Linked DNA regions of Homo sapiens. The protein of the gene in region 3 purifies or fractionates together with the protein of the main gene of each other region. This does not show direct contact. Each region holds a gene or a part of one and is shown on either strand. Other genes may lie near its edges.

The links.
Region 1: the proteins of PCLAF (region 3) and ING1 purify together in Homo sapiens (affinity purification with western blotting, with the first as the bait; one study listed by BioGRID). This does not show direct contact.
Region 2: the proteins of PCLAF (region 3) and DLAT purify together in Homo sapiens (affinity purification with mass spectrometry, with the first as the bait; one large-scale study listed by BioGRID). This does not show direct contact.
Region 4: the proteins of PCLAF (region 3) and ZC3H11A purify together in Homo sapiens (affinity purification with mass spectrometry, with the first as the bait; one large-scale study listed by BioGRID). This does not show direct contact.

Annotation. Positions count from the first base shown.
Region 1 is NC_000013.11:110,720,200-110,727,713, reverse strand, and holds the end of ING1 (inhibitor of growth protein 1), read right to left. Parts: 3' UTR 4,375-7,514; downstream 1-4,374. UniProt on the Homo sapiens protein: Cooperates with p53/TP53 in the negative regulatory pathway of cell growth by modulating p53-dependent transcriptional activation. Implicated as a tumor suppressor gene.
Region 2 is NC_000011.10:112,043,567-112,051,080, reverse strand, and holds part of DLAT (dihydrolipoyllysine-residue acetyltransferase component of pyruvate dehydrogenase complex, mitochondrial isoform 2 precursor), read right to left. Parts: intron 5,944-7,514; coding exon 5,851-5,943; intron 5,219-5,850; coding exon 5,111-5,218; intron 1-5,110.
Region 3 is NC_000015.10:64,374,541-64,382,054, forward strand, and holds the start of PCLAF (PCNA-associated factor), read right to left. Parts: upstream 6,902-7,514; 5' UTR 6,832-6,901; coding exon 6,786-6,831; intron 6,499-6,785; coding exon 6,418-6,498; intron 2,366-6,417; coding exon 2,203-2,365; intron 1-2,202. UniProt on the Homo sapiens protein: PCNA-binding protein that acts as a regulator of DNA repair during DNA replication.
Region 4 is NC_000001.11:203,845,262-203,852,775, reverse strand, and holds part of ZC3H11A (zinc finger CCCH domain-containing protein 11A), read right to left. Parts: intron 5,593-7,514; coding exon 5,089-5,592; intron 4,446-5,088; coding exon 4,369-4,445; intron 3,066-4,368; coding exon 2,750-3,065; intron 2,262-2,749; coding exon 2,095-2,261; intron 1,720-2,094; coding exon 1,652-1,719; intron 636-1,651; coding exon 377-635; 3' UTR 1-376. UniProt on the Homo sapiens protein: Through its association with TREX complex components, may participate in the export and post-transcriptional coordination of selected mRNA transcripts, including those required to maintain the metabolic processes in embryonic cells.

The DNA.
Region 1 (7,514 bases), on a different chromosome or scaffold from region 3:
TGTGTCTGAACACATCTGTGCTGCAGAGAAAAATCCTTGCTGCGGTGTCCTCATTGCTCTTCCGATTCCTGAATTTTCTGACACTTCTCTTATCTTTCCTGTCTTTGCTTGAGACATAGTCAATTATTGTTACTTGCAACCAAAAGATGCTCAAATAATAGAGAAAATAAGTATTTATCTAACAATTTCTTATGTTAAATAAACACTTTGGGAGACAGCAAACTGTTTCCAGGCATCTTTGTAAATGGATACATTGTTAAACTCTGTGATTGATCATTACATTTGTTTTTATAAAATTTTATAATAAAAATTTTATAATAAAAATAAAATTTATTAAATGTAATAAAAATATTACATTAATGTCTCAAATATTACATGTCTCAAATATGTAATGACATTACATGTCATTACATGTCTCGTTACATTACATGACATTACATGTCTCATTACATTAATGTCTCAAATATTAATCATTTAGAAATATTGCATTTCCAATGGCATACAGATTTATCCAAAAATATTCCCTTCACACAAATCAAACTGAAATTCCCTTTTAGGTGTGTTTTTAGAACTGGTTTCCAAGTTAGAAAAGAAAATGTTTCATGTTTAAATGTCAATTCTTGGATTCAGGCTTTACTCTACACGTCTTTATTAAAGGCCTATGGCTTAACACGAGAGACCCACGGTTCCTAACGTCCACATAAATGAGAACAGGTGCACCCATGAAACAGCATGGCTGATGAAGCGGGGGAGTGGCTCTGGCCTGGAGTAACAGCACTTCATCCTGCCGGCAGCCCCACCACCAACTCACGGAGTGCCTTTGAGGAAGTGGCTTCATCACCCTTGGGCCTCGGTTTCCTCACCCACACAGTGAAGAGATTGAATGAGATTTTCTGCCTACTCTGAATTCAATCAAGAGGTGAGTCAAAAGGAAGTTTAGTAGGCTCTGATTGCTACTAAAAATAAAAATTCGATGTATTTACTTCTGTGTTCTACAACGAGAAATGGAATTGTTTATAGAAAAGCAGCCATGGAGGACTTCCTCCTCGTGCAGCAGGAACCTGGCAGTGACCGCTAACATGCTAAGGGTGGACTTGATTCTCTTTAGCTGTAAGGAATCACAAGTCCATTTTTTAAGAATACATGTGTTAAACTAGAATAATTTGACCAAAAATATTACTCAAATTGTTATCTGTACAGTGCTCTAGCATTTCTGAAGTATTTTCAGACATTAACAAGTCTGGGCCTCCACTCCTGGGATGGGCATTATCACTGTCCTTATTTTGCTTCTGAGAACATTGGGTACAGAAGAGTGACTTCCTTGAGGTTAACCTGTGATAAACTAGTCCTGATTCAAATCTGACTTTGACTCTCATGCTGATTCTAGCACCGTGCATGGCTCCTAGTGAATTGCTTAAAACCTTGCAGGTAGGCTGGGCACGGTGGCTCATGCCTGTAATCCCAGTACTTTGGGAGGCCGAGGCGGGCGGATCACCTGAGGTCAGGAGTTCAAGACCAGCCTCACCAACATGGAGAAACCCCGTCTCTACTAAAAATACAAAATTAGCCAGGTGTGGTGGCGCGTGCCTGTAATCCCAGCTACTCGGGTGGCTAACGCAGGAGAATTGCTTGAACCCGGGAGGCGAAGGTTGCAGTGAGCAGAGATTGCGCCATTGCACTCCAGCTTGGGCGAAACTCCATCTCGAAAAAACAAAACAAAACAAACAAACAAAAACCTTGCAGGTAAATTACAATCCTAAAATTCACTGTAGGGCAAAACAAGAAACTTGAAGTAAGCATCCTGGTTTACCTGGAGGAAAATCAGAAGCATGAGAACTTGGTAGTGCAAATACCCGTGGCTCCTGCAGATCCCTTCATTCAGGCAAAGAAGCCCAGCAATTAAGACTTTTTCGCTCTCTCCTCCCGTGAGACCATGAGCGTTTCTTTCACCTTCTATGGCTTTCTCAGTTGTAAGACCCCCACAGAGCTGGGAGGACAGCACACTCCTGGCATGTTAGGCGTTCAGGGAAGACCAGCAGCAACGCCAGGTCCTGACCATGAGGAGGCCTCCGGGTGCCAGGCGGTGGTCAAGGATGCTGGTTTTGGAGCCAGATGCAGGGCGTTGGCCTTGTGCAAGTCAGGTCCCTGGCTGGAGTCTCAGCACCTTCATCAGGAAAAGCAGCCATTTTTTGGCAGGGTTGTCATAAAATATGAAGTATGCAGTGCTAGCAATGTCTAGCATATAGGAGGCAATAAATGGTGGCTATATTGATATACATACACCACGACACTGAGTACCTTTATTTAAAGTTGCCTGCTGAAACAAGCATTTTCTTGTTTCGTAGAAAATTCTACTTTAATATAAAATATTATACCATTGAAGAGTTTGGATGTGTAACTTGTGATGCCTTAGAAAAATATCCTAAGGGGCTAGGTGCTGTAGCTCATGCCTGTAATCCCAGCACTTTGGGAGGCTGAGGCGGGTGGATCACCTGAGGTCAGGAGTTCGAGACCAGCCTCACCAACATGGAGAAACCCCGTCTCTACTAAAAATACAAAATTAGCTGGGTGTGGCGTGGTGGCGCCTGCCTGTAATCCCAGCTACTTGGGAGGCTGAGGCAGGAAAATCTCTTGAACCCAGGAGACGGAGGCTGCAGTGAGCCAAGATTGCGCCATTACACTCCAGCCTGGGCAACAAGAGCAAAAATCCGTCTCAAAAAAAAAAAAGGAAAAAAGAAAAAGAAAAAAATCCTAAGCACAAAATAAATTTTTCTAACCACTTCAAAAAAAAAAAAAGAAAAAAAGAAAATTTCTACTTTAGCCAGGCACGGTGGCTCACACCTGTAGTCCCAGCACTTTGGGAAGCTGAGGCAGGTGGATCACCAGAGGTCAGGAGTTCAAGACCAGCCTGGCCAACATGGTAAAACCCTGTCTCTACTAAAAATACAAAAATTAGCCGGGTTTGGTGGCACACGCCTGTAATCCCAGCTACTCGGGAGGCTGCAGCAGGTGAATAGCTTGAACCCAGGAGGCGAAGGTTGCAGTGAGCCGAGATCGTGCCATTGCACTCCAGCCTGGGCAACAAGAGCAAGACTCTGTCTCAAAAAAAAAAAAAAAAGAAAAGAAAAAAGAAAAAGAAAAATTTTACTTTAATGGAGTTTACTGGCTCCAGTCAAGATTTAACCTGGGCTGGGCGTGGCGGCTCACACCTGTAATCCCAGCACTTTAGGAGGCTGAGGCGGGCGGATCACGAGATCGGGAGTTTGTGACCGTCTGGCCAACATGGTGCGACTCTATCTCTACCAAAAATACAAAAAAATTAGCTGGGCGTAGTGGTGCATGCCTCTAATCCCAGCAACTCGGGAGGCTGAGGCAGGAGAATCGCTGAACCCAGGAGGCAGAGGTTGCAGTGAGTTAAGATCAGGCCACTACACCCCAGCCTGGGTGACAGAGCAAGACACCGTCTCAGGGGAAACAAAAAAAAAAAAAAAAAAGATTTAACCTGTTACTCAGTTTGTAGTAGCTTCTTTTCAGATTGGGGTTTTTAATTGGAAAAATACCAACCCCATCTTTATGAACAGTCAAGTAATACAGAGTATTTGAGGTAAGGAAAGAGAACTGGCCTAATGATTTTCTTCATTCCAGTTATAGAATTCCTCTCATTCTTTTGGTGGCACAGGGGGCACAGCTCACTAATGTTTGGTTTGTTAGAAAAAAATGTAATAGTTGGATTCTCACTGATGAGCTGCTTAAAAAACAAAGACGGAATAGTTAAAATAAATACTCTGAAACAAAGCCCCTCATAAAAAGCCTCAGGAGGCAATTTTGACTTAGTAACACAACACACATTTGCTCTCCCACCTCCTTCCCATTAGCGGTGTCTTCCTAAGCCCTCCACGAGTTCACAATGAGAGCCTGTGCAGAGAACACGAGTGCCTCAAGAAATGCAGTCACGGACTAGCAATTTTTCCAGATTAAAAAAACCCCGGAAATCTAGCCCCCAAGGTGCTGAGAACTGCCTGGACTCTGCGATGAAAGAGGCACATTCTACACGCTAAAATGGAGAGGGAGGCAGACAGTATCAATAAAACCTCTCTCCATATATGCCAAGGATTCTAGAGCCATAAATTACATTAGATAGAAGGAAAAAAGCTAGATGTCCTCGAGAGCACATCATGTCTTTAGAAGTGCACAGATGAAGCTCTTAATCATTTTGCCTAAGAAAAAGATTTAATACTTTAATGAAATATTGAAGTGTTCAGGTAAGTTCCAGGTAACTTATTACCTGGAACACTACATAAATGTGAACTACAAAAGGATATCACAACTAAATGTGTACTCTTTCTAAAATAATATATAATAAGAGGAAATGGCTTTTACTTTGATAAATGCTTTATTCAGCATTGGCAACCACCGACAGTCTCAAGTATTGAGACAACTCACATAGCTCTAATCACACCAAAAGAGAACCACCAGCCAACGTCCCAGTCACTGGCAAGTGCGTGCCTGCAGGTCTGTGACTCCTGCAGCACCTCTCTCAGCACCTGGGGAGCCTGTCCCAGGAACACCATGGCTGCTCAACACTTCCTTGAACATACAACGTTTCTTTAGTCCAGTTTACAATAGAAAGTATTATATCATAACGAAAACACTTTGGACCCTTTATCTGAACTGTAATAACTTGGTTATTATACAACAAATATGCATTGAACATCTAAGTAAAAGCAACTGTTCTATATTAGATCGCTTTTCAGTAATCTATTTTTCAAAAAGAATTCAGTACCATTTTTGTCCTCATGTCGGGATTCCAGGATCTTTCTATTGTATCTAATCATGATCTAAATCCCAAATCTTGAGTGTTTTAAGTACTTATCTGTGATTTTTTTTTAATGTCCACTGGAAATAACAAGAGTGATTTAAGACTGCCAGTCCAACACGACTCTGTATTGTATCTATTTTTTTTTAAAGAATAAGTGGCTACCCACCTGTCCTTATGAGAAACTTGAAGAAAGCTAGAGAAAAATTATCCAACATTTGAATATGCCAGTGCATTTATTTATTGGAACCACCCTCTGTGAAACATACTTTAAAAGTGTAGAACTATAGACCAACTGTTAAGCAATTTATTCAAGATCAAGCCCTTAAAGGACAGGGCTGGGCTCCTAGATTGCAAGGCTTGGCCTCTGAGCCATCTCTCTTCACCAGTTGTCTACACCAAAACTGAATATGAAGAAATCCAGGATGAGCAACTGCATTTCATTGAATCTTCATTTCTATAACTTAATTTGCATTATTACCTCCAATTAATATAGAAGTGAAAAATTAGCATGAAATTTTATATAAGCAAAGACTCAAGCTATTTTTATTGTCACTGGATGTTTATTAAGTATTTTAGTTTCATAACTTATTTTCATAAACCTTTTGTTCACTATTTGTTTGGGTAAATCTCATCAAATTTAAACACCCGAGACTCTTAAATGTTCTGGAGTTTTGTGGGAAAATAAACACCTATTTGTAAGTATTGATATGTAAAAAGTTCAAATTTTAGTATATGACCAACTACAATTTGCATTTCTCTACCAAGTAACCCTCTATAATGGAATTTCACTGTAAAACAGACACTTATGTCCAGCACAAATAAAGTTCACAATAATTGTTTATCACAAGTAAACAATCAGCAAACTTAATGTTTTACTTATAATAAATACATGCCATATACTTAGATTCTAGAAAGTCATCACTCACTACTTCTTTGTGGTAGGTAGCTTCACAGAGACTGTGAAACAGATCATGGAAAGAAACTGATTTTACCATGTGCGAAGTTAAAGGGAACCACGTATCACTCAGCGCACGGTGGCTCACGCCTGTAATCCCAGCACTGTGGGAGGCCGAGGTGGGCGGATCATGGTCAAGAGCTCGAGACCATACTGGCCAACATGGTGAAAACCCATCTCTACTAAAAATACAAAAATTAGCTGGGCATGGTGGCACGCACCTGTAGTCCCAGCTACTCGGGAGGCTGAGGCAAGAGAATCGCTTGAACCCGAGAGGCAGAGGTTGCAGTGAGCCAAGACTGGGCCACTGCACTCTAGCCTGGAGACAGAGTGAGACTCCATCTCAGAAAAAAAAAAAAAAAAAAAAATGAAAACTCCAGCCGGGCACGGTGGCTCACACCTGTAATCCCAGCACTTTGGAAGGCTGAGGCAGGTGGATCACCTGAGGTCGGGAGTGCGAGACCAGCCATGACCAACATGGAGAAACCGCGTCTCTACTGAAAATACAAAATTAGCCAGGCGTGGTGGTGCATGCCTGTAATCCTAGCTACTGGGGAGGCTGAGGCAGGACAATCGCTTGAACCTGGGAGGCGGAGGTTGCGGTGAGCCAAGATTGCGCTATTGCACTCCAGCCTGGAACTCAATCTCAAAAAAATAAAAAATAATAAATGAAAACTCCACTGACCCTTTCAATATGTGGGCAAATCAATGTTAGATGCTAGTCTAAATCAGAGGTCAGCAAACCCTTTCTGCAGAGGGCCAGAAAATAGTTTTGGCTTGTCAAGTCAAATGGTTTCAGGTGCAACTATTGAACTCTGCCGTTTTGCAAAAGCAGTCAGACAATACATACGCACATAAGCACGGCTGTGTTCCGCTGAAACTTTATTTATGGACACTAGAATTTAAACTTCATATAATCTTCAAACAGATGGTGGGCTGAACTTGACAAGTGGGCAGTAATTTCCTGACCCAGGGTCTGAATACAGATTCTTTTTTGACACGTATTTATTTGCTGGCAATTAAGTAACTTCTACTTCATTATTAATAATAAGTGAGAACAATAATACAAAATTTGCTTAAGGCTTTGTCTAAATTGCTGGTGTATAAATTTTTAAGACAAATTTTAAAAGTTACTTATGTCAAAATTAAATATACTACTAGAGGAACAAACTGGCCAAGTTTCATTTATTTCTTCACGTAACATTTTTACAGCTCACATACAGCAGGAAGCACACCTTTGCACATAATTGTGACATTAGCTTCACAACAGCATCTGCTGACTGCACTTCCAATTATAATATAACAAGTGCAAGTTCATTTGGAAATGTACATTTATACACCTGATATAAATTAAAGATGGGTACACTATGATTGGTGATAGCAAAAGCATGACTTGAGGTTCCTTGACTAGACCACTTAAGAGAAGTGTACCCAAGCATTTTAAAATGGCCATTTGGGGAACAGGCCAATAGATAAAATATCTGTCATGTAAAATTTAACCATTTACCTTTTTAAAAAATAATCTTCAAACTTTAAACCTTTGTTACTGAATTGTTATATGGATATACATCATGGCAGCAAGAAACACATTTACTATAGGCTGTATTTTTGGCGACATGGCCAATTAAAAAAAATTGTTCATAAAGTAATAATATTACTTGTATTAAAATAAAAAAGCTAAATGAAATATTTTCCTTCCACATTTAATGTGTTAGGTTGAGTTTAGTCCCCCTCCTCCCG
Region 2 (7,514 bases), on a different chromosome or scaffold from region 3:
AGGCCTCACATGCATCAGCTATTTTTCCTAATGCTTTCCCTCCCCGGACAACTGTAGTTTCTAAATTCTCTCACCAAAGAGTAAAACTGTATAATCGTGAGAAAAGGAGGAAGAGAAAGAGAATATACAAATATCCTGAGGTGGAAAGAAAGAAATGAAACCAAACATTGGTTCTTTCATCTTTTTAAATGCGGACTCTTACAGCTGTTTCCTGCTAAGCACTGCTTTAGCATAATCCCATAAGTTACAGTATGTTATGTCATCATTTTCATTCATCTCAACAATAACAAAATTTGGTTCTTTGAAAAGATCAATCAAATGACAACCACAATGATAAATGTTTAGTTAGACTGACCAAGAAGAGGAGAGAAGACTAGAATTTCTAAAATTAGGAGTGAAATAGGGGACATTACTATCTACCTTACAGAAGTAAAAAGAATTATAGGGAATACTATGAACAACCATACAGACACAAGCTACCAAAACTGAACCAAGGAGAAACAAAAACTCTGAATAGACCTATAACTAACAAAGAGATTGAACTGGTAATTTAAAAACTACCCATGTAGAAAAGCTTAGACCCAAATGGCTTCGTCAGTATTCTACCAAATATTAAAGAAGAATTAATATCAATTCCTCACAAATTCTTTCAAAGAAAAATCAAAGAAGAGCAAGAAACACTTCCCCACACATTCTGTAAGGCCGGGATTAGCCTGATACCAAAACCAAAGACGACATTAGAAGAAAAAAAAAAAAAAGTACACACTAATATCTTATGAATATAGATGTAAAAATCTTCAACAAAACGCTAGCAAATAAAATCCAGCAATATATAAAAAGGATCATTCACCATGATCAAATCTGATTTATCCCAAGAATGCAAATTTCCATTAACATCTGAAAATCCATTAATGTAATAATGTCCTAACAGAATACAGGACAAAAAACACATAATCATCTCAACAGACACAGAAAGAGCATTTGATAAAATTCAATACCCCTTTTCATGATCAAAACACTCTTACTAACTGGGAACAGGAGGGAACTTGCTCAACCTGATCTATGGAAACCTCACAACTATTTAATGACCAAAGACTTATTCTCCCAAAGATCGAGAACAAGACAAGATGTTCACTTCTGCTACACCTATTCAACATTGCCTAGAGGCGCCAGCCAGAGCAATTAGGCAAGAAAGGAAATAAAAGGCATACAGGTCAAAATGAAAAAAGTAAAATTATCTCTATTTGCAGATAACATTATCTTGTTTACAGAAAAACCTAAGAAATACACTAAAAAACTGTAAGAACTAATAAATGACTTCAGCAAGTTTGCAGGATACAAGGTCAATATAGATCCCATTTCAGCAGGTATATGAAAAAAAAGATCAATATAGAAAAATGAATTGTTATCTCAATTGATTGCTCAGAGTCCATTATAAATCTAACTTCTTTTCTACTCTTCCGCCCTTCTCACTAGTATACCTGACTAGTCTTAAAAAAAAAAAAAAATCAATCATACCTTTATATAGTAGCAATGAACAATCTGAAAATGAAATCTAGAAAACAATTCCACTTAGAGTAGTATCAAAAAGAATAAAATACCTAGAAATAAGTTTAACAAATGCAAATTTAGAGTGCAAAACTTACACTCTGAAAAACTATAAAAAAACTGTTGAAAGAGACTGAAGAACACCTAACTAATACAGGGGCATCTACATGTTCATGGATGAAAAGACTATATTCTTCGGATGGCAACACTTGCCAAACTGATCAGCAGATACATCCAATCAATCCTTATCAAAATGTCAACTGGCTTCAATGCAGAAATTTACAAGCTAATCCTAAAATTCACTTAGAATTGCAAGGGACTCAGACAAAACAATCTTGATTCTGGCTAACACGGTGAAACCCCGTCTCTACTAAAAATACAAAAAATTAGCCGGGCATGGTGGTGGGCGTCTGTAGTCCCAGCTACTTGGGAGGCTGAGGCAGGAGAATGGCATGAACCCGGGAGGCAGAGCTGGCAGTGAGCCAAGATCACGCCACTGCACTCTAGCCTGGGTGACAGAGCAAGACTCTGTCTTTAAAAAAAAAAAAAAAAAAAAAAAAAAATCTTGAGAAAAAAGAACAAAGATGACTCACGTTTCCTGATTTTACAACTTATTACAAAGCTAAAGTAATCAAGACTGTGGTACTGACATTAAGGGTATACAGAGATTAATGGAATGGAATTAAGAACCTGGAAATAGGCCAGGCATGGGGGCTCATGGCTGTAATTCCAGCACTTTGGGAGGCCAAGGTGGGTGGATCATTTGAGGTCAAGAGTTCGAGACCAGCCTGGCCAACATGGTGAAATCCTGTCCCTACTAAAAATACAAAAATTAGCCATGCCTGGTGGCTCATACCTGTAATCCCAGCTACTCGGGAGGCTGAGGGACGAGAATTGCTTGAACCTGGAAGGTGGAGGTTGCAGTAAGCCAAGATCACGCCACTGCACCCCAGTCTGGGCAACAGAGTGAGACTCAGTCTCAAAAATTGGCACATGACAAGGATGCTCTCTCTCACCACTCCTATTCAGCATAGTATTGGAAGTTCTGGCCAGGGCAATCAGGCAAGAGAAAGAAATAAAGAGTATTCAAATAGAAAAAGAGGAAGTCAAATTGTCTGTTTGTAGATGACATGATTGTATAGTTAGAAAACCCCATCATCTCAGTCCAAAATCTCCTTAAGCTGATAAGCAACTTCAGTGAAGTCTCAGGATACAAAATCAATGTGCAAAAATCACAAGCATTCCTACACGCCAATAACAGACAAACAGAGAGCCAAATTGTGAGTGAATTCCTATTCACAATTGCTATAAAAAGAATAGAATACCTAGGAATACAACTTACAAGGGATGTGAAGGACCTCTTCAAGGAGAACTACAAACCACTGCTCAAGGAAATAAGAGAGGACACAAAAACAAATGGAAAAGCATTCCATGCTCATGCATAGGAAGAATCAATATCGTGAAAATGGACATACTGCCCAAAGTAATTTATAAATTCAATGCTATCTTCATCAAGCAACCATTGACTTTCTTCACAGAATTAGAAAAAAACTACTTTAAATTTCATATGGAACCAAAAAAGGGCCCGTATAGCCAAGACAATCCTAAGCAAAAAGAACAAAGCTGGAGGCATCATGCTACCTGACTTCAAACTATACTATAAGGCTACAGTAACCAAAACAGCATGGTACTGGTACCAAAACAGATATATAGACCAATGGAACAGAACAGAAGCCTCAGACATAATGCCACACATTTACAACCATCTGATTTTTGACAAACCTGACAACAACAAGCAATGGGGAAAGGATTCCCTATTTAATCAATGATGTTGGGAAAACTGGCTAGCCATATGTAGAAAACTGAAACTGGACTCCTTCCTTACACCTTATACAAAAAATAACTGAAGATGGATTAAAGACTTAAACGTAAGACCTAAAACCATAAAAACCCTAGAAGAAAACCTAGGCAATACCATTCAGGACACAGGCATGGGCAAAGACTTCATGACTAAAACAACAAAAGCAATGGCAACAAAAGCCAAAATAGACAAATGGGGTCGAATTAAACTAAAGAGCTTCTGCACAGCAAAAGAAACTATCATCAGAGTGAACAGGCAACCTACAGAATGGGAGAAAATTTTTGAAATCTATCCATCTAACAAAGGGCTAATATCCAGAATCTATAAGGAACTTAAACAAATTTACAAGAAAAAAACAAATGACCCCATCAAAAAGTGGGCAAAGGATATGAACAGACACTTCTCAAAAGAAGACATTTATGTGGCCAACAAACATGAAAAAAAGCTCATCATCACTGGTCATTAAAGAAATGCAAATCAAAACCACAGTGAGTTACCATCTCACGCCAGTTACAATGGCGATCACTAAAAAGTCAGGAAACAACAGATGCTGGAATGTGGAGAAATAGGAACGCTTTTACACTGTTGGTAGGAGTGTAAATTAGTTCAACCCATTGTGGAAGACAGTGTGGCGGTTCCTCAAGGATCTAGAACCAGAAATACCATTTGACCCAGAAATCCCATTACTGGGTATAGACCCAAAGGATTATAAACCATTCTACTATAAAGACACATGCACACATATGTTTACTGCAGCACTGTTCCCAATAGCAAAGACTTGGAACCAAGCCAAATGCCCATCAATGATAGACTGGATAAAGAAAATGTGGCACATACACACCATGGAATACTATGCAGCCATAAAAAAAAGGATGAGTTTGTGTCCTTTGCAGGGACATGGATGAAGCTGGAAACCATCATTCTCAGCAAACTAACACAGGAACAGAAAACCAAACACCGCATGTTCTCACTTGTAAGTGGGAGTTGAACAATGAGAACACATGGACACAGGGAGGGAAACATCACACACCAGGACCTGTAGGGGGGTGGGGGGCTAAGGGGAGGGATAGCATTAGGAGAAATACCTAATGTAGATGATGGGTTGGTGGGTGCAGCAAACCACCATGGCACGTGTATACCTATGTAACAAACCTGCACGTTCTGCACATGTATCCCAGAACTTAAAGTATAATAAAACAAAACAAAACAAAAAATAACAAGATCTACAAAAAAAAAAAAATCTGGAAATAAAATTCTCACATATATGATTAATTTTGACAAGGATACCAAGACAATTCGATGGGGAAAGATGGTGCTGGGATGAAAGAATAAATGTCCACATGCAAAACAATGGTTGGATTCCTATCTCACACCACCTATAAAAAATTAACTCAAAATAGAGCAAAGACCTGAATATAAGAACTAAAAGTATAAAACTGTTACAAGGAAACAAAAGTATAAATCTTCATGACCTTAGACTAGGTAATAGTTTCTTAGATATAATACCAAAAGCACAGAAGAAAAAAATTGATAAAAGTGGACATAACCAATATTTAAAATCTTGTGCTTCAAAGGACAAGATCAAGAAAGTAACCACCAACTGATATATTGTAACAAAATATATGGACAAAAATATAAATGTTTGGTGGGGAAAGACAAAATTTTTATAACTTAGAAAGTTGGAATTTTCAGAACTTTTACCTTATTAAGTTCTTTCCGTACCAACAAAACTTCTCCCATATTTACATCGATAGAAAGGTAATAATGAGGTATGGTTTGCTTTGATTGCATTAATCGCTGTGCAATAACCTGAAACCAAAGAGATTTAAAAAATCAATTATCTTGAGTTAAGACCTTAACTAATTTAGGGCTCTGTTTGTCTCTTCACCTTACTCTCTGCTAATACTTACCTCAAGCATTATTATAATTGAAAGATGGAGGACTCCGCCATAATATAACACCTCCTAGATTTTTTTTTTTTTTTGAGATGGAGTCTCGCTATGTTGCCCAGGCTGGAGTGCGGTGGTGCGATCTCGGCTCACCACAACCTCCATTTCCCAAGTTCAAGCAATTCTCCTGCCTCAGCGTCCCGAGTACTTGGGACTACAGGCATGTGCCACCATGCCCGGCTAATTTTTGTATCTTTAGTAGAGACGGGGTGTTTCACTATGTTGGCCAGGCTGGTCTCGAAGTCTGGACCTTGTGATCTGCCCGCTTTGGCCTCCCAAAGTGCTGGGATTACAGGCATGAGCTACTGCGCCTGGCCCTTCTAATAGGAACAAAGTGATTCAAGTATTCAGTTGGCCAAAACTTCCCTTAAAGTAATCATCCAATATTCCCAACTTAAAAAGCCTCTGTTAATGTGTTAAAAACTATGGAAGCAACTAAACAACCTAAAGATGCCCCTAACAGCTGATTCCAGATGATGGTAATTCTCTTACCCGACGAATGTTGCTGATTGGGATATCTGTGAAGACACCTGTAGGAACTGGTGCCATTCCAGGACCTGTGGGAGGCACAACAGCTGCCGGAGCCTATGGGAGGAAAGAAAAAGCTCTTAGTAACTGTGATTCAATCTTAGCGTAAGTACCTGGGAAAGACTGCCAGTGACTATGCAGTTTTTTTTTTTTGTCTTTTGAGACAGAGTCTTGCTCTGTCACCCAGGCTAGAATGCAGTGGCTCAATCATGGTTCACTGCAGCCTCAACCTCCTGGGCTCAAGCAATCCTCCCATCTCAGCCCCTAGAGTAGCTGGGACTACAGGTGCACGCCAACATGCCCAGCTAATTTTTTTGGATTTCTAGTAGAGACGGAAATTAGCCACGTTGCCCTGGCTGGTCTCAAATGCCTGGGCTCAAGTGATCCACCCACCTTGGCTTCCCAAAGTGCTGGGGTTACAAGCATGAGCCACCATGTCCAGTCTAAAAACTAAGCTTTATAGAATACCTATTTCTGTCCCCAGTGAGCAAAAGAGACTTCTGCTTGTTTTAAGAGTTTTAATTTTTTTACTTAGAATTCTGAAGTCATGTTTTAAGTGTCATTTTTCTTTGTATCAGAGTATGTTCAATGACCAGTTTGTGTCAAAATAATTTTGTTTTTGCAAAATTATGTTCAAGAAAAGCAATGGAAGCATTCTTAAGTTGCAAGGAATAATAAATAAGTATAAACAAGCTAATCCATTATCCTAAACAATGTTAAGAAAAGGGGGTTGGGAGGCTCACTTGAGCCTCACAATGACTCACTTGAGGCCAGGAGTTCGTGACCAGGCTGGCCAACATGGCGAAACCCTGTCTCTACTAAACATACGAAAATTAGCCAGGTGTGATGGCATGCACCTGTAGTCCCAGCCACCTGGGAGGCTGGGGCATGAGAATCGCCTGAATCCAGGAGGCAGAGGTTGCAATGAGCCAAGATCGCGCCACTGCACTCCAGCCTGGGCGACAGAGTGAGACTGTCTCAAAAACAAACAAACAAAAAAAACCAAACACCAAAAACAACTCATTCAACTGTACTTTAAAATATTTTGAAAAAGAAAAAAAGAACAAATCTTTTATTTCAAAGCAAAAACCGATTAACTAGCTCAAAACATAATGTGGAATACATGTCAATGTAGTATATCATCTTTGATCTTGTATATAAATGATAGCACACAAATATCTAAATACACTTGGCCCTCCATATCCATAAGTTCTGCATCACTGGATTCAACCAAAGGCAAATCAAAAATATTCCAGAAAAAAACAGATGGTTGCATCTGAACTGCACAAGTACAGACTTTTTGTCCTTATTATTATTTCCTAAGCAATAAAATATAACAACTATTTACATAGTATTTACCTTGTATTTAATATTATAAGTAATCTAGAGATGATTTAAAGTATTTGAGAGGATGTGGGTAAGTTATATACAAATACTACACTATTTTATATAAGAGACTTAAGCATTTGCGAATTTTGGTATACAAGGGGGCTCCTGGAACCAACCTCTCATGGGTACCGAGGGATGACTGTATTATTAAACCACTGAAATTAGAAGAAAACAATCTTGGTTGAGCTATTTCGTTCATAAATAATGTATGAAATGGTCTAACAGGCTGTAGAGACAAA
Region 3 (7,514 bases):
AAAAAAAAAAAGTTTGCACACTGGCCAGGTGTGGCAGCTTATGCCTGTAATCCCAGCACAGTGGGAGGCCAAGGCAAGTGGATTACTTGAGCTCCGGAGTTTGAGACCGGCCTAGGCAACGTGGCAAAACCTCATCTCTACCAAAAACACAAAAAATTAGCTGAACTCCATGGCACATGCCTGTAATTCCAGCTACTTGGAAGGCTGAGGTGGGAGAATCAATCGAACCCAGGAGGCAGAGGTTGAAGTGAGCGAACATTGGGCCACTGCATTACAGCCTGGGTGACAGAGTGAGACCCCCATATCAAAAAAAAAAAAAAAAAGGAAGAAAGAAAGAAAAAAAGGAAAAAAGGAATGAGATATTCATGAAATACAACGGATGAAACTCGGAAACTTTTTTTTAAAGGTTGCACACCAAGTTTGGTGTGTGTAGTTTTATCCCTACTTTTTGTTTTTCACTATTCTTACGTACTTACAGAGAAGTTGTAAAGACAATACACCATGGTATTATTCCTAGTTGGTTCTAGGTGATGGGGATTTCTATATTTTCCAACTTTTCCATATTGGTCATATTTTTATTTTTATTTTACTTGATTTTTTTTGAGATGGAGTCTCGCTCTGTCCCCCAGGCTGGAGTGCAGTGGTGCGATCTCAGCTCACTGCAACCAACACCTTTCAGGTTCAAGCAATTCTCCTGCTTCAGCCTCCCGAGTAGCTGAGATTACAGGCACGTGCCACCACGCCCGGCTAATTTTTTGTATTTTTAGTAGAGACGGGGTTTCACCATGTTGCAGGATGGTCTCGATCTCTTGATCTTGTGATCTGCCTGCCTTGGACTCTCAAAGTGCTGGGATTACAGAGGTGAGCCACTGTGCCAGGCCTATTTTTGAGACAGGTCCTCACTCTGCCACCCATGCTGGAGTACAGTGGCGGGATCTCGGCTCACTGCAACCTTCATCTCCCAGGGTCAAGCAATTCTCCCACCTCAGCCTCCCTAGTGGCTGGGATTATAGGCGGCGCCGCCACCCTTTTGGTAGAGAAGGGGTTTCACCATGTTGCCCAGGCTGGTCTGGAACTCCTGAGCTCAAGCGATCTGCCCACTGTAGCCTCCCAAAGTGCTAGGATTACAGGCATGAGCCACCGCACACAGCCTGGTTATATATTTCTTGTGCAAGTTGAACTGGTAGTTTTTTAAGGGACAGGATTAATGGAATTCAAGTTATATAAGCCAACAAGGAAATTGCCTTGTAAGAAAAGCCTAAAGGAAAAAGACAGTAAGAATTAAAGACTCAATACACTAAGTTCATGGTTAATGACATAGCACTTATGTGAATGGGAACTGATCCTCTTTGAGAGATTGGGAAGAGTAAAAAGAATACTTTTTACTAATGTTTGAAATTTGCTGGCTGGATGCAGTGGCTCACGCCTGTAATCCCAGTACTTTGGGAGGCTAAGGTGGGTAGATCACAAAGTCAAGAGTTCAAGACCAGCCTGGCCAACAAGGCAAAACCCTGTCTCTACTAAAAATACAAAAATTAGCTGGGCGTGGTGGCGTGTGCCTGTAATCCCAGCTACTTGGGAGGCTGAGGCAGGAAAATTGCTTGAACCTGGGAGGCGGAGGTTGCAGTGAGCTGAGATAGCGCCACTGCCCTCTAGCCTGGGCAACAGAGCAAGACTCCGTCTCAGGAAAAAAAAAAGAAAAGAAATTTGGGAGTGAGTTATAATAAGAAATTAGAAGAAGTTTTTAAAAACTTTTTTTGCATTTTCTTATGAGCTTGAAGAGAAACTTGACTCAATATCCTATTTGTCCTTTATTTTCAAGATATTTTCTTTATTAATTAATTAATTAATTTTTTATTTGAGACAGAGTCTCACTCTGTCCCCCAGACTGGAGGGCAGTGGCGTGAAAATGAGATACATGTGCATTACATGCAAGTTTGTTATATAGGTATATGTGTGCATGGTGGTTTGCTGCACCAAGCAATTCTTTTGTTTGAGCCTCCCAAATAGCTAGGACAACAGGTGTGCACCAGCACGCCGAGCTAATTTTGTATTTTTAGTAGAGACAGGGTTCCACCATGTTGGACAGGCTGGTTTTGAACTCCTGGCCTCAAGTGATCCTCCCGCCTCGGCCTCCCAAAGTGCTGGGATTACAGGCGTGAGATAAATATTTTCTTTATATTCCAGAATATAAAAACTTACTTTCTCTTTGCTTTTCCTAAGCCACTGCTTCCTGCCTCTTCAGGAATCTGATTCTCTTTTTCAGAATCTTTAGGGGACAACCTAAAGAATTCTCCAATTCCTTTTTGCCACTTGGGAGTTGGGCGCACGCAAACGGGGTTCCCTCCTGCATATTTATTTTCAGCTGTAAAATATAAACAGATGGAACTAGATAAGTGCTAATAATACAATCTCTATTCCTTAAACAACTTAATTCCTTCTTTAACATCAAATTCTCAAAGGTATTAAATAATCTTTATTTAAGATATACAACTTAAAGAATTAGAAAATGTGACACAATAAAGCTGTATTCCACCAATAAACTCAGTGTGATGGTTATCTTAGCAATAACAGTAGTAACAGAATTTTTACAACTGAAAAATATTTTTATATTTTGTCCACAAGCAGAGCTATTCAAATACTCTTGCCGGGTCCAGTGGCTCACGCCTGTAATCCCAGCACTTTGGGAGGCTGAGGAGGGTGGATCACAAGGTCAGGAGTTCGAGACCAACCTGGACAACATGGTGAAACCCCCGTCTCTACTAAAAATACAAAAATTAGCTGGGTGTGGCGGCACGTGCCTGTATTCCCAGCTACTTGGGAGGCTGAGGCAGGAGAATCACTTGAACCAGCGAGTCGGAGGTTGCAGTGAGCCAAGATTGCGCCGCCACTGCACACTCCAGTCTGGCAACAGAGCGAGACTCTGTCTCAAAAAAAAAAAAAAAAAAATATATATATATATATATATATATATATATATATATATATATATATATATTCTTGTATGTACTGACATACTGAAGTTTGACACACTTTTTCCTAACATAAGATAGGACCATGTAGTATAAAGTGCCAACATTTTACTTACTAAGGTCATTTAGTTAAAGCACATATAAGAGGCAATGTGAAAGTCTCCACAAAAGTAGATTCCATTTTTCAAAGCACCTGGCTCCTTTTCAGTTCATAAGAGAAGTCCAATTCCTGGTGTTTTTTTTTTTTTTTTTTTTTTTTTTCAAAGTCTAGCTCTGTCACCCAGGCTGGAGTGCAGTGGCGCAATCTTGGCTTACTGTAACCTCTGCCTCCCGGATTCAAGTGATTCTCCTGCCTCAGCCTCCCGAGTAGCAGGGATTACAGGCGCCCGCCACCACGCCCAGCTAATTTTTGTTTTGTTTTTGTTTTTTTGGGGGGGAGACAGAGTCTCACTCTGTCACCCAGGCTGCAGTGCAGTGGCACGATCTTGGCTCACTGCAAGCTCCGCCTCCCGGGTTCATGCCATTCTCCTGCCTCAGCCTCCCGAGCAGTTGGGACTACAGGCGCCCGCCACCACACCTGGCTAATTTTTTGTACTTTTAGTAGAGACAGGGTTTCACCATGCTAGGATGGTCTCGATCTCCTGACCTCATGATCCGCCCGCCTTGGCCTCCCAAAGTGCTGGGATTACAAGTGTGAGCCACCCTGCCCGGCCAATTCCTGGTTATTTTTCAACAGTAATATAAGGAGAAATTGAGGGAAAATTCTTGCCTTTTTATAAAGTAATGACCAGGAACAAATTATTCAGTTACTGCAAATCTTTTGCTTTAAGCTAAAACATTTGCTTTAACAACTCTAGTTGTTAAAGAATGCTTACAAAAGTTGTTTCCATATAGACTCTGAAGTTATATTGTTTCTACTTATTTATTTACATTTATAAAAATAGCAATGGGGTTTTGCCACGTTGTCCAGGCTGGTCTCAAACTCCTGGCTGAGGCAACCGTCCCGCCTTCGCCTCCAAAAGAAGGAATGGCATATAAAAGATAGTGATCTTTTGGTTCACAGTTTTCCCAAAGGAACCTTACAGGAATGCTTTTACTACTAGAAAACATACAGCAGCAGCTGGGCGCAGTGGCTCACGCCTGTAATCCCAGCACTTTGTGAGGCCGAGGCAGTTGGATCATGAGGTCAGGCATTTGAGAACAGCCTGGCCAACATGGTGAAACCCTGCCTCCACTAAAGATACAAAATTTAGCCAGGCATGGTGGCGCATGCCTGTAATCCCAGCTACTTAGGAGGCTGAGGCAGAAGAATTGCTTGAACCCGGGAGGCGGAGGTTGCAGTGAGCCGAGTTCATGCCACTGCACTCCAGCCTGGGTGACAGAGCGAGACTGTGTCTCAGAAAAAAAAAAAAATATAGCAGCAACAGGTTCAAACCCAACTCCACTGATTTAGTTGTGTGACCTTTATCAAGTTATATAACCAGATATTAAATTTCCTTATCTTTAAAATAAGGATATTACCCATTTCATACATCCAATTATTCGGATTAAAAATAGAGATTTTTAAAATGCCTTAAAGGATGCATTTATTCAACATATATTCAGTAAGGGCCTATTTAGTTGGCTCTGGTGATTCAACAGTGGACCAGACGATGAGATGCGGCTCTAATGAAATTTCATCAGGCCAGGCGTGGTGGCTCACGTCTGTAATCCCAGCACTTTGGTAGGCTGAGGCGGGAGGATTGCTTCAGCCCAGGAGTTCGAGACCAGCCTGGGCAATGTGATGAAACCCCATCTCTACAAAAAACACAAAAATTAGGCGGGCGTGTGGTGGCATGCGCCTACAGTCCCAGCTACTTGGGAAGAGCCTGAAGTGGGAGGATCATTTGAACCCTGGGGTCAAATCTGCAGTAAGCTGTGATTGCACCACTGCACTCAAGCCTGGGCAACAGAGTGAGACCCTGTCTCAAAAAAAAAAAAGAAAAAAGAAAAGAAAAAGAAACTTAGTCTAGTGGTACAGGGTATAAGTTACTCTAAAAAAATTCATCAACTTCTATTTCCTTTTATCTGAAGAGATAGAAATAGTAAATGTTTTCTAATGAAATGTTTATAATAGGGAGAAATTTGAATTGACTTTAAAACCCATGAAGTCCTAAACAGTGTTCACCTTTATGTTCTTAATTAAATCTTGTAGCGTTAATCTCCCTGTCTGCCAAATTTCCTACTGAAAGGAATGAGGCACCAGATGGCAGGGCATTTTCTCATCTACTCCACGCACAGAAGGAGCAGCGTGAAGCTATTTCCTTTGCCGGGTTTCACTCCTACTCTCCCAAAGACAGTATTAGGAGCTGCAAAGTTGGAGAAAACCCACAGACATCATACTCAAACAAACAAACAAACAAAAAAGAGTAAGGAAGAAAGGAAAAACAAGCAAACAAAAACAAAAACATTTTTATTAAAGTTTAGTAGACATTGCAATGAGCACTCAGCACTGTTAACGATTGTTCAAACCCTTAATCTACTAAGGGGGCTTTTAAATAGCCTCTAACAATATTTAAATAGCCTCTGTTATTATTAAGAAAAATAATAGCTGGGCGTGGTGGATCACGTCTGTGTTCCCATCACTTTGGGAAGCTGAGGCAGGCAGATCATGAGGTCAGGAGTTTGAGATCAGTCTGGCCAACATAGTGAAACCCCATCTCTACTAAAAATACAAAAAAATTAGCTGGGTGTGGTGGCGTGCACCTGTAATCCCAGCTACTCAGGAGGCAGAGGCAGGAGAATCGTGTGAACCCGAGAGGCGGAGGTTGCAGTGAACCAAGATCACACCGTTGCACTGCAGCCTGGGCAACAGTGCAAGACTCTGTCTCAAAAAAAGAAAGAGAAAGAAAAAGGAAAATACTAAACCAAAAAACAAAAATTGATAGGCTGGCTGTGGTGGCTCATGCCTGTAATCCCAGTAGGAGGATTGTTTGAGCCCAGGAGTTTGAGACCAGCTTAGGCAACATAGTGAGACCCCCATCTCTACAAAAAATAGAAAAAAAAGCCCGGCGTGGTGGCATGTACCTGTAGCCCCAGCTACTTTGGAGGCTGAGGTGGGAGGATTGCTTAAGCCCCATAAGTGGAGGATGTAGTGACCAGTGATTGCACCACTGCACTCCAACCTGAGCAACAAAGAGAGGCCCTGTCTAAAAAAAGAAAAGAAAAGAAAAATAGGCTTGAAGATAAGGTGTGTCGGTCCTTAACTCCAAGGCTTGAAATTCCCTTCCATGAGACCTCCCCCCCACCTCTACCCTAGCCGGCCAAAAGGCCCAGCCTCTCTTATTATATCACAGGGCAAGGAAGAAATTCGGGCGTGAGTACCTCAAGAAAAAGAAATTCATGGCAAGCCAGGGGCTTGCAGGTGCCAGGACTGATCCCCTAACTTTAGGAGGGCTCTTCTTACCTTTCCTCGATGAAACTGATGTCGAATTAGTGGCAGAGGTGGAAGAACCAAGCACCTTTCTGGGGGCTCGAGCAGCCACCACTGTGAAGAGAGGCAAAAAAGGGTGTTCAGAAGGGGCAGGAGGGTTCCGACACCGAGTCCTGGACCCCAGCAGCTTGGAGAGGAGAGCCTGGCGATCCAGAACAGCAGGATAACCTTACCCTGCCCCTGCGACTTCCTCTTCTAGGTAAAGGGGCCAGGCGGCTACTCCCTGGCTAGCTAGATGAGTTTGGCGCACAGGGCCCAGGGGGACCTCTGGCGTCTGTCGCCCGTGGCCAGGCTGCCGGGAGGACCCCCCCGCCCTCCAGTACCACACTCGATCGCCTCACCTTTTCTGTAAGTGCCTGGAACACTGTCTGCTTTAGTCCGCACCATGTTCAAACAAGAAGAGAGGAGAGGAGAGAACGAACTGACTTCCCAGCCGAGGGTGTTTCACTGGACAAGGACCCGAAAACTATCCCGCCACAGTTTATATTGGTCTCTTTCCCGCGCGCTCCAAGGTCTCTCCCGAGCCACCGCTCCCATTGGTTCCGCGCCGTTCCCCCTGAACCAATTGCCAATGCCCAGTGGTGACAGCGGCGAGGCTTCTTGCAGCGCGAATCCGTCCATCAACACGCAAAGGCCTAGGATTCGTAGGCGCCCCAGGTGGGCGGTACCAGGACTCTCCAGGGGTACCCGACTAGTGGGTGCTAAGTTTCTGAACTACAGAAATGAGCCTGCTTAGAAAAGAAAACCTAGCAAAGACAGCGAATTACAAACGATCTTCAAAAGTTACTATAGCTTTAAGTCCATAATGATTGACTCCTGGAGGTGAAACCTGAAATTAAGCGGACTTTTTGATGCAAATCAAAATTAAAAGAACTTGAGAACTTTCCTTTAGTCCCCCAGGCATGAACTCTTTGTACAGCATCCATACTAAAACAATTCTATGGAATGGGGAAAAGGAAGCTAATACAACTTGTTTACAAGGGTTTTTTTAAATGTCTTTAGGATGATGTGAGACTAAACAAAAACTAGGGGGATTGTATATACATACACACATAAAAAGAAACTAATAA
Region 4 (7,514 bases), on a different chromosome or scaffold from region 3:
CAAGACAATACATAAAGAATACAACAAAGAAGAAAAAAGCCAAAACTGACAAACACCTCAAGGAGTCACTAAGTTCGCTTGCACCCTTTCACTTGATCTCCCTCTCAGTCTCTTTTTTGTGGAGAGAAGGGTATGACAGAACTTTTTTCTCAAAAGATGATAAACAATGGCATCAAATGGACAAAATGGTTATAAAGTAACTTTAAAAATCTGACCCCAAGGAATCCAGGACACATACAGATAATTCAGAGGTATACTTCTGATTTGGGGCAAATTCTAGACTAAAGAAATGATCATCTCAGGTAAATGTTACAATAGATGAAACTAAGTCCAGTTTTTTGGCGATTTTTTTTTTAAAGTGTCCTCACTACCACCTTCAGCTATCAATCATTTCTGATAGCTCAAGCAGAAGGTCATCTTCATCTTTCCCAGGATCCAGGTCAATCTCAGCTTCCAATTTGCCTCCTGAAATCTCCCATATTAGTTTCTCAAAATCATCCTCCACAGAGAGTGGGGGCTTTCCTGTTGAGGCAGAGCTGAGTCGGCGAGTTTTCATGCTCATTTGGGATGAGGAAGGGCCAGACACCTCCGGGGGTGAGGAATCTGAAGAGGACTGGGTTGGAGGCAGCACAAGACTGTAAGAAAAAAAAGATTATTAGAAAACTGCCGTTTTAAAAATAGTTGGCTGAATCACCTAGTCTCACGGACACAAAGTGAGCAAAAATTTGTTTTTAAGAACATACATAAAGAAATAATTCTTTTACTGATTTGGGATCAAGCTTTTTTTTTTTTTTTTTTTTTTTTTTTGAGGCAGAGTCTCCCTTTGTCACCCAGGCTGGAGTGTAGTGGTACAATCATGGCTCACTGCAGCCTCGACCTCCTGGGCTCAAGCGATCATTTTGCCTCCGCCTCCCAAGTAGCTGGGTCTACAGGTGTGTGTCACCATGTGATTTTTTTTTTATTTCTTTGATTTTTATTAGAGACAAGACCTCACTATGTTGTCCAGGCTGGTCTTGAACTCCTGAGCTCAAGTGATTCTCCAGCCCCAGTCTCCCAAAATGTTGGGATTACAGGCATAAGCCGCCTTGCCTGGCCAGCACCAAGCATTTTTATAACTCAAAGTAGGTGTTAAAGACATCTTTCAGGGGCCGGGCATGGTAGCTCATGCCTGTAATCCCAGCACTTTGGGAAGACGAGGAAGGTGGATCACTTGACGTCAGGAGTTTGAGACCACCCTGGACAATGTGGCAAAACCCTGTCACTACTAAAAATACAAAAATTAGCTAGGCCTTGTGGCAGGCACCTGTAATCCCAGCTACTTGGGAAGCTGAGGCAGGAGAATTGCTTGAACCCGGGAAGTGGAGGTTGCAGTGAGCAGAGATTGTGCCACTGCACTCCAGTCTGGGTGACACAGTGAGACGCTGCCTCAAACAAAAAAACAAAAAAACATCTTTTAGGTAATATAGCAAAATGTAAACAATGGCACCAAAGAAGAACAGCAACCCTAGATTTTCATACTTTCTTGCAATTAATTTGAAGTGCAACAGATTTATTTGAATGTTGCTAAAGTTATTTATCAGTGTTATTCTCTAGAGAGCCTAAACAGTAACAGGGGCCTGGAGTTTGTTTAGAAAGAATTACAAAGTATTACCTGTCTCTAGGATTTTCTGCTTCAGGCACAGTGACTGATTTGTCCTCAGAGACAAGCGGGACAACAGCCTACAAAAGGAAGAGTCAGGTAATTCAGTGAGAGTCAGGCTTTTTAATTTGAGCATATTCATTTTCTTTTGCTGCCTTCTTAGAATTGTGGCTATGATTCTTTAAGCCTGTGAATCTAAGAATCGATAATCTAAAGGTTGAGTATATAAATAAGCAAAATATCTTGCCACCTAAAAATTAGCTTTTAAAAAATCCTGTCCTGCTACTTCACAAATATCAAACTGTAAGTATAAAATACAGTAGTAACCCAAATTACTAAAATGCTAGGAAATGCCAGGAAGTGATATACTCAAGATAGAATGCTAGTGGAGAGTTAGTCTTTCCTGCTTTCCTACCACACAGAATAAAGCACCACAAAGTGAATATACTTCTTACCACAGCTGCCTTTTTGGCTGGGGGTTCCTGTAGGACACTGCTGGAGCTGAGTGGCTTCACAGCGGCAATGACAGCAGCGTGCATCTCCACTGCCTTACGTTTTGGGGCCAATTTGGGGGATGACACAACTTTAACCACAGATGGCTTCACGTTCACTTTGGGTTTAGCTACAAAGGGCAGAAAATATCTGATAAGCAGTGAGAATAGACTCTTTTAAATGGGGAATAATTCAGAATAAAATATCAAAACTCCTTCAGTACTAGAAATACCACAAATAATTCATTTAAAAAGAGACTGAAAACGATTCAAAGGCAATTTGTGGTCACATGGTGGTCACTACAGGTGGTCACCATGTAGATACAATACCACTTAAATTTGTTACCATTCCTCTATTCCTTGTTTTTATTCAATACCAGAGGAAAGATGCACCATAGAAAGTTTTACACAAAGCTTTTTAAATAGCAATTTTAAATTCTGAGAAAAGAATTCATCTCGTTTTGCCTCTGTATAAAAATATCAGAAATATTACTATCTACCTGTGGATAGAAGGCAAATGAAATTCAACCCAATTGTTGCCAGGAAGTTACTGGCAACAATTGGGTTGAATTTGGTAATTTTGATAACCTAAAGCAATACACAGTATAGAAATACTTGCCTTTACCCCTTTTTTCCAAGGTCTGTGCTGCACATTTCACATTCAATAATGAGTCTCCAATCCCTGAGGTTTCTACCTCCACCTTCTGGGATGACTTTGTGGGAAGCCGCTTGGTCAGGTGCCGTGTGATTCCTGGCACAGCAGTGAGCACTGGTTTCTCTGCCACTTGGGTATTGCAAGAGGCTACATCTCCCCGAAGAGGTGTCAAGACTGATTTTTCCCTCTCCTGCTGTTTCTGCATGTGCTTCTCTCTCATGGTCTCACATCTCTTGACTTGAATTTTAGTGATGTCAACTCCTGTGGTCTCACCTGAAGCCTGTGGATAAATTTGAATGACAGAATTAAAATCTGGTACCTCTAATAACCTGTATGATGTAAGTACCAGGCTAACATCTAAGTTAAGCAGAATCTCACATGATCCAGAATCTGAGAGAAAAGCTCTTTATTTGATGTTAAATAGACAATACCCTGTTAAAGATGAAAGATTAGAATTACAGATGTATGGAATAATAAAAAACCCAGATTCCACAGGCTAGACAACCATGACTCTAAGTCAAATACTAATGATTCCTAAATAATCAAATACCTGCACAAAGATTTATGTACAAATATATTACTTTAAATTGTGTAAAACAAAATCTGAATGTCCAGAAAAAGACTGTATTTGTATAATGGAGAATCATGTGGTCAGTAAAAACAAACTTCTTGAAGAATTATTAACATGGTAAAGTTAAAGCAGGCTGTAAAATGATACACTGTAGAGTTCTCCATTATGTTCTAAACATGGGTTTAACATTAAACAAATTCACATGCATGCATATATAAACAAAAAGGTCGAAGAAGGCCAAGTGTGGTGGCTCACACATGTAATCCCAACACGTTGGGAGGCCAAGGCAGGCAGATCACTTGAAGCCAGAAGTTCGAGACCACTCTGGACAACATGGAGAAACTCTGTCTCTACTAAAAATACAAAAATTAGTCAGGCTTGGTGGTGCATGCCTTTGATCCCAGCTACATGGGAGGCTGAGGCACAAGAATCGCTTGAACCCAGGAGGCAAAGGTTGCAGTGAACCGAGATCATGCCACTGCACTCCAGCCTGGGCAACAGAGCAAGACTGAAAAAGCTCGAAGAAATCCATGGAAAAGATAATGATGGTTACATCTGAGCTGTATATTTTTAGGGTTTGTTCAGTTTTAAAAAAAATAAAATTTCCAACTTTTGTATGATGCATAGCATTAGAAAAAACTCAGTTAAAAAAAAGTAATGGCCAATTAAACAAAAAACTTTATTTTTTGTATTTTTAGTAGAGACGGGGTTTCACCGTGTTAGCCAGGACGGTCTCAATCTCCTGACCTCGTGATCCGCCCGCCTCAGCCTCCCAAAGTGCTGGGATTACAGGCGTGAGCCACCGCGCCCGGCAAACAAAAAACTTTAAAAGGGCAGCGAATACTGATATACATAGAACTACAGGAAATTCTCATAAGAAATTATAAGTAAAAAGAAAGACTGTTTACCTAATATATGAATGAAGTACTTAGAAATTTATTGTAAGGTAAAACTACCAATTATCTAGCCTTTGTTTGCCATGAACAAAACCATACAATAATCTTAAATTTACCTCTTTAGCTTCTGTTCTAATACTGCTCTGAGAATCAACTTCATTTCCTTCCTGAAGGTTCTTCTCTTCTTTCATCCCTGTATTCACATTAAAGACATCATTAGTTATTTTATTTAAGCTGCAACTTCATGATAGATATGTTAAACAAAACTTTATTTAATGAAAGTAGTAAGACAGGACAAATAAAATTACAGATAAAGCCCATCTGTGCTCCTAAAGTCTCAAAATACACATTAAAATAGCAAAGGTTGGCCGGGCATGGTGGCTCACACCTGTAACCCCAGCACTTTGGGAGACTGAAGCAAGCAGATCACACTTGAGGTGAGGAGTTTGAGACCAGCCTGGCCAACATGCTGAAACCCCATCTCTATTAAAAATACAAAAATTAGCGGGGTGTGGTGGCACATGTCTGTAGCCCCAGCTACTTGGGAGGCTGAGGCAGGAGAATCACTTGAACCTAGGAGGTGGAGGCTACAGTGAGCCAAGGTCATGCCACTGCACTGCAGCCTGGGTGACAGAGTGAGACTCTGTCTCAAAAATAAAATAAAACAAAATAGCATAGGTCTACATAGCACTACTGAAAAACTTCATTTAATTCAGTGTTTTCAACGTTATCTGAGTAAAGAAAGGTTGTCAAACAACTCCTAGGAAGATCCCACGGAACACTCCTCTGGAATATTATGTGGGGACGTGGTACTAGAGACCAAGTTCTCTTGTTACCTGTTCTTTTGGTGATTCGCAGCAGCCGCCTTGCCCCTGGAGTGGCCTCGTGTTGAGACGGGGAGCTGGTGCTGCTCTCAGAGCTCTGCTGCACCCTCAGTGCCTTCTCCAGTTTAATTTCTTCCAGCGTCTTGATGTGCACCTCCTGCATAGACTTTGTTTTACCTGCAGGCTCCTCTGATTGTCCTCTGCTGGCAACAATGGGTGGCAAAACTACTGTTTTTTTAATTTCACTATCAATCTTTAGCTTGATGCAAGTTGTATCCTTTTTGCTTTTTTGTCTCTCTGCTTCCTGCTGCCGATGTTTTTTTTCAGCCAGGACCTCAGAGAAGGTTTTGATACGGATAGTGGAGGAGCTTCTTGCTCCTGAAGTAGAATCATCAGTTTTTGAAGGTCCTTCTGTCTTGAGTTTAGTTTGCAATTCTCCACGTTTCTGACTGGCTCTTTCAAGAAGAATTTCTTCTAATGTCTTCACATGGATCTCACCAACTTTATTAACTTTATCTGTTTTCACAGGAGAAAAACATGTCATTATACTTGAAGTTCATCTCTTACTGACTTATGATCTCTCTATTCTTGGATCAAGACAGTCCAACAGAGAGCTATCATTTAAGCAGGCAATTAAAAGGATCAAAAGGGTAACATTTATTTCTTTTCCTTTTTTTCTTTTTCTTTTTTTTTTTAAGACAGAGTCTCACTCTGTTACCCAGGCTGGAGTGCAGTGGTATAATCTCAGCTCACTGCAACCTCTGCCTCCCAGGGTTCAAGTGATTCTCCTGCCTCAGCCTCCCAAGTAGCTGGGACTACAGGTACCCACCACCAAGCCCGGCTAATTGTTTCTATTTCAATTTTAGATTACTGCAAGTTCCAGGCAGTGGTCCTCAAGGAAAACTCTTTGGAGGCAAAAATTGATTTGTATTTCTATTCAGAAGCTTATTCTTCAGAAACTGAAAGCCATTTACTAGTTGGATAAATTTGTCATTATAAATCTTAACAAAAATAGCAATAAATTCTTCATTAACTTATGGCTATAAACATGTAATGAACACTGGGCTAGAAATACAATGGTAAGCAAAATAAAATCTCTGTCCACATGTAATTTACAGTCTAACAGATCAATAATTAAACTAGCTATAGCAGAGTATGGTAATGATAACTGCTTTGATAAGGTAGGTATAATGCTATAAAAGGACACAGCAGGAACACCTACACTTGTCTACAAGGAAATGATATTAAATTTAAAGGATAAAAAGAAGGTAAAACAGGTGACAAGATAGAAGAAAAATGCAGAAGGCCCAGAAATTGGCATGCCACTGAAGAGCTATTTTCAATGATACATTAATCGTTCTATATCTGTCTAAACTGAAGACCAAATGTCACACTTCACAGATAGAACCATTCTCATTACTGAAGGGCTAAGAAAATAAATAATGAAAAGAGATAGTGCTATGAAATAAATGATAATTTGGAGATCATACACATATATATGTAATCACTGAATAACAGCTTTTAATGAACCCCCCCCCCAAAAAAATTATATCTTTTCAAAATCTTTTTTTTTTTTTTTTTTTTGGTAAAGACGAGGTCTTGTTATGTGGCCCAGGCTGGTCTCCAAACTCCTGGCTTCAAGTGATCCTTCTGCCTCAGCCAATCAAAGTGCTGGGATTACAGGTGTGAGCCACCATACCCAGTCTGAAATCTTAAAATATACTGTGTTCTGTCTCACTTTCCAAACTCCTGAGTATACTATTCCCTCTACTTGGAGTATTCCGTGCTGTTCTCATTTCTCTTGCTACCTGTGTTTTTTGTTTGCTTGTTTTTTGAGACAGAGTTTTGCTCTGTTGCCCAGGCTGGAGTGTGCAGTGGTGTCATCTTGACTCACCGCAACCTACATCTCCTGGGTTCAAGTGATTCTCTGCCTCAGCCTCCCAAGTAGCTGGGCCTACAGGTGCCCACGACCACGCCTGGCTAATTTTTGTATTTTTTGTAGAGACAGGGTTTTGCCATGTTGGCCAGGCTGGTCTCAAAACTCCTGGTCTCAAGAGATTTACCTGCCTGGCCTCCCAAAGTGCTGGGATTACAGGCGTGAGCCACCACGCCAGGCCTGGTTAGTTTCAACTGAATTCAGCTTAAAACCTGATACCCTCCAATTTAGTTTTTCTGATCAAAGCACTGAACACTCAGTACACTGTAATTGCATCTTCAACCACACTAAAGACTTCATGAGAACAACGACTGTATTTAGGTACCTGTAATATTGCAAAGGAAGCACTCACTTACTGAATTAGTTCTTCAAGTTCTTTAATAAAAAATCACAAATTCTTTCAATCCAAGGTGGCAAACATTTCAAAATTACCACTCCAAGAAAGTACAACATGAATGGTGACATAGAGGCCCTGTTTCCCTCCCCTACCAAAATTTCATTG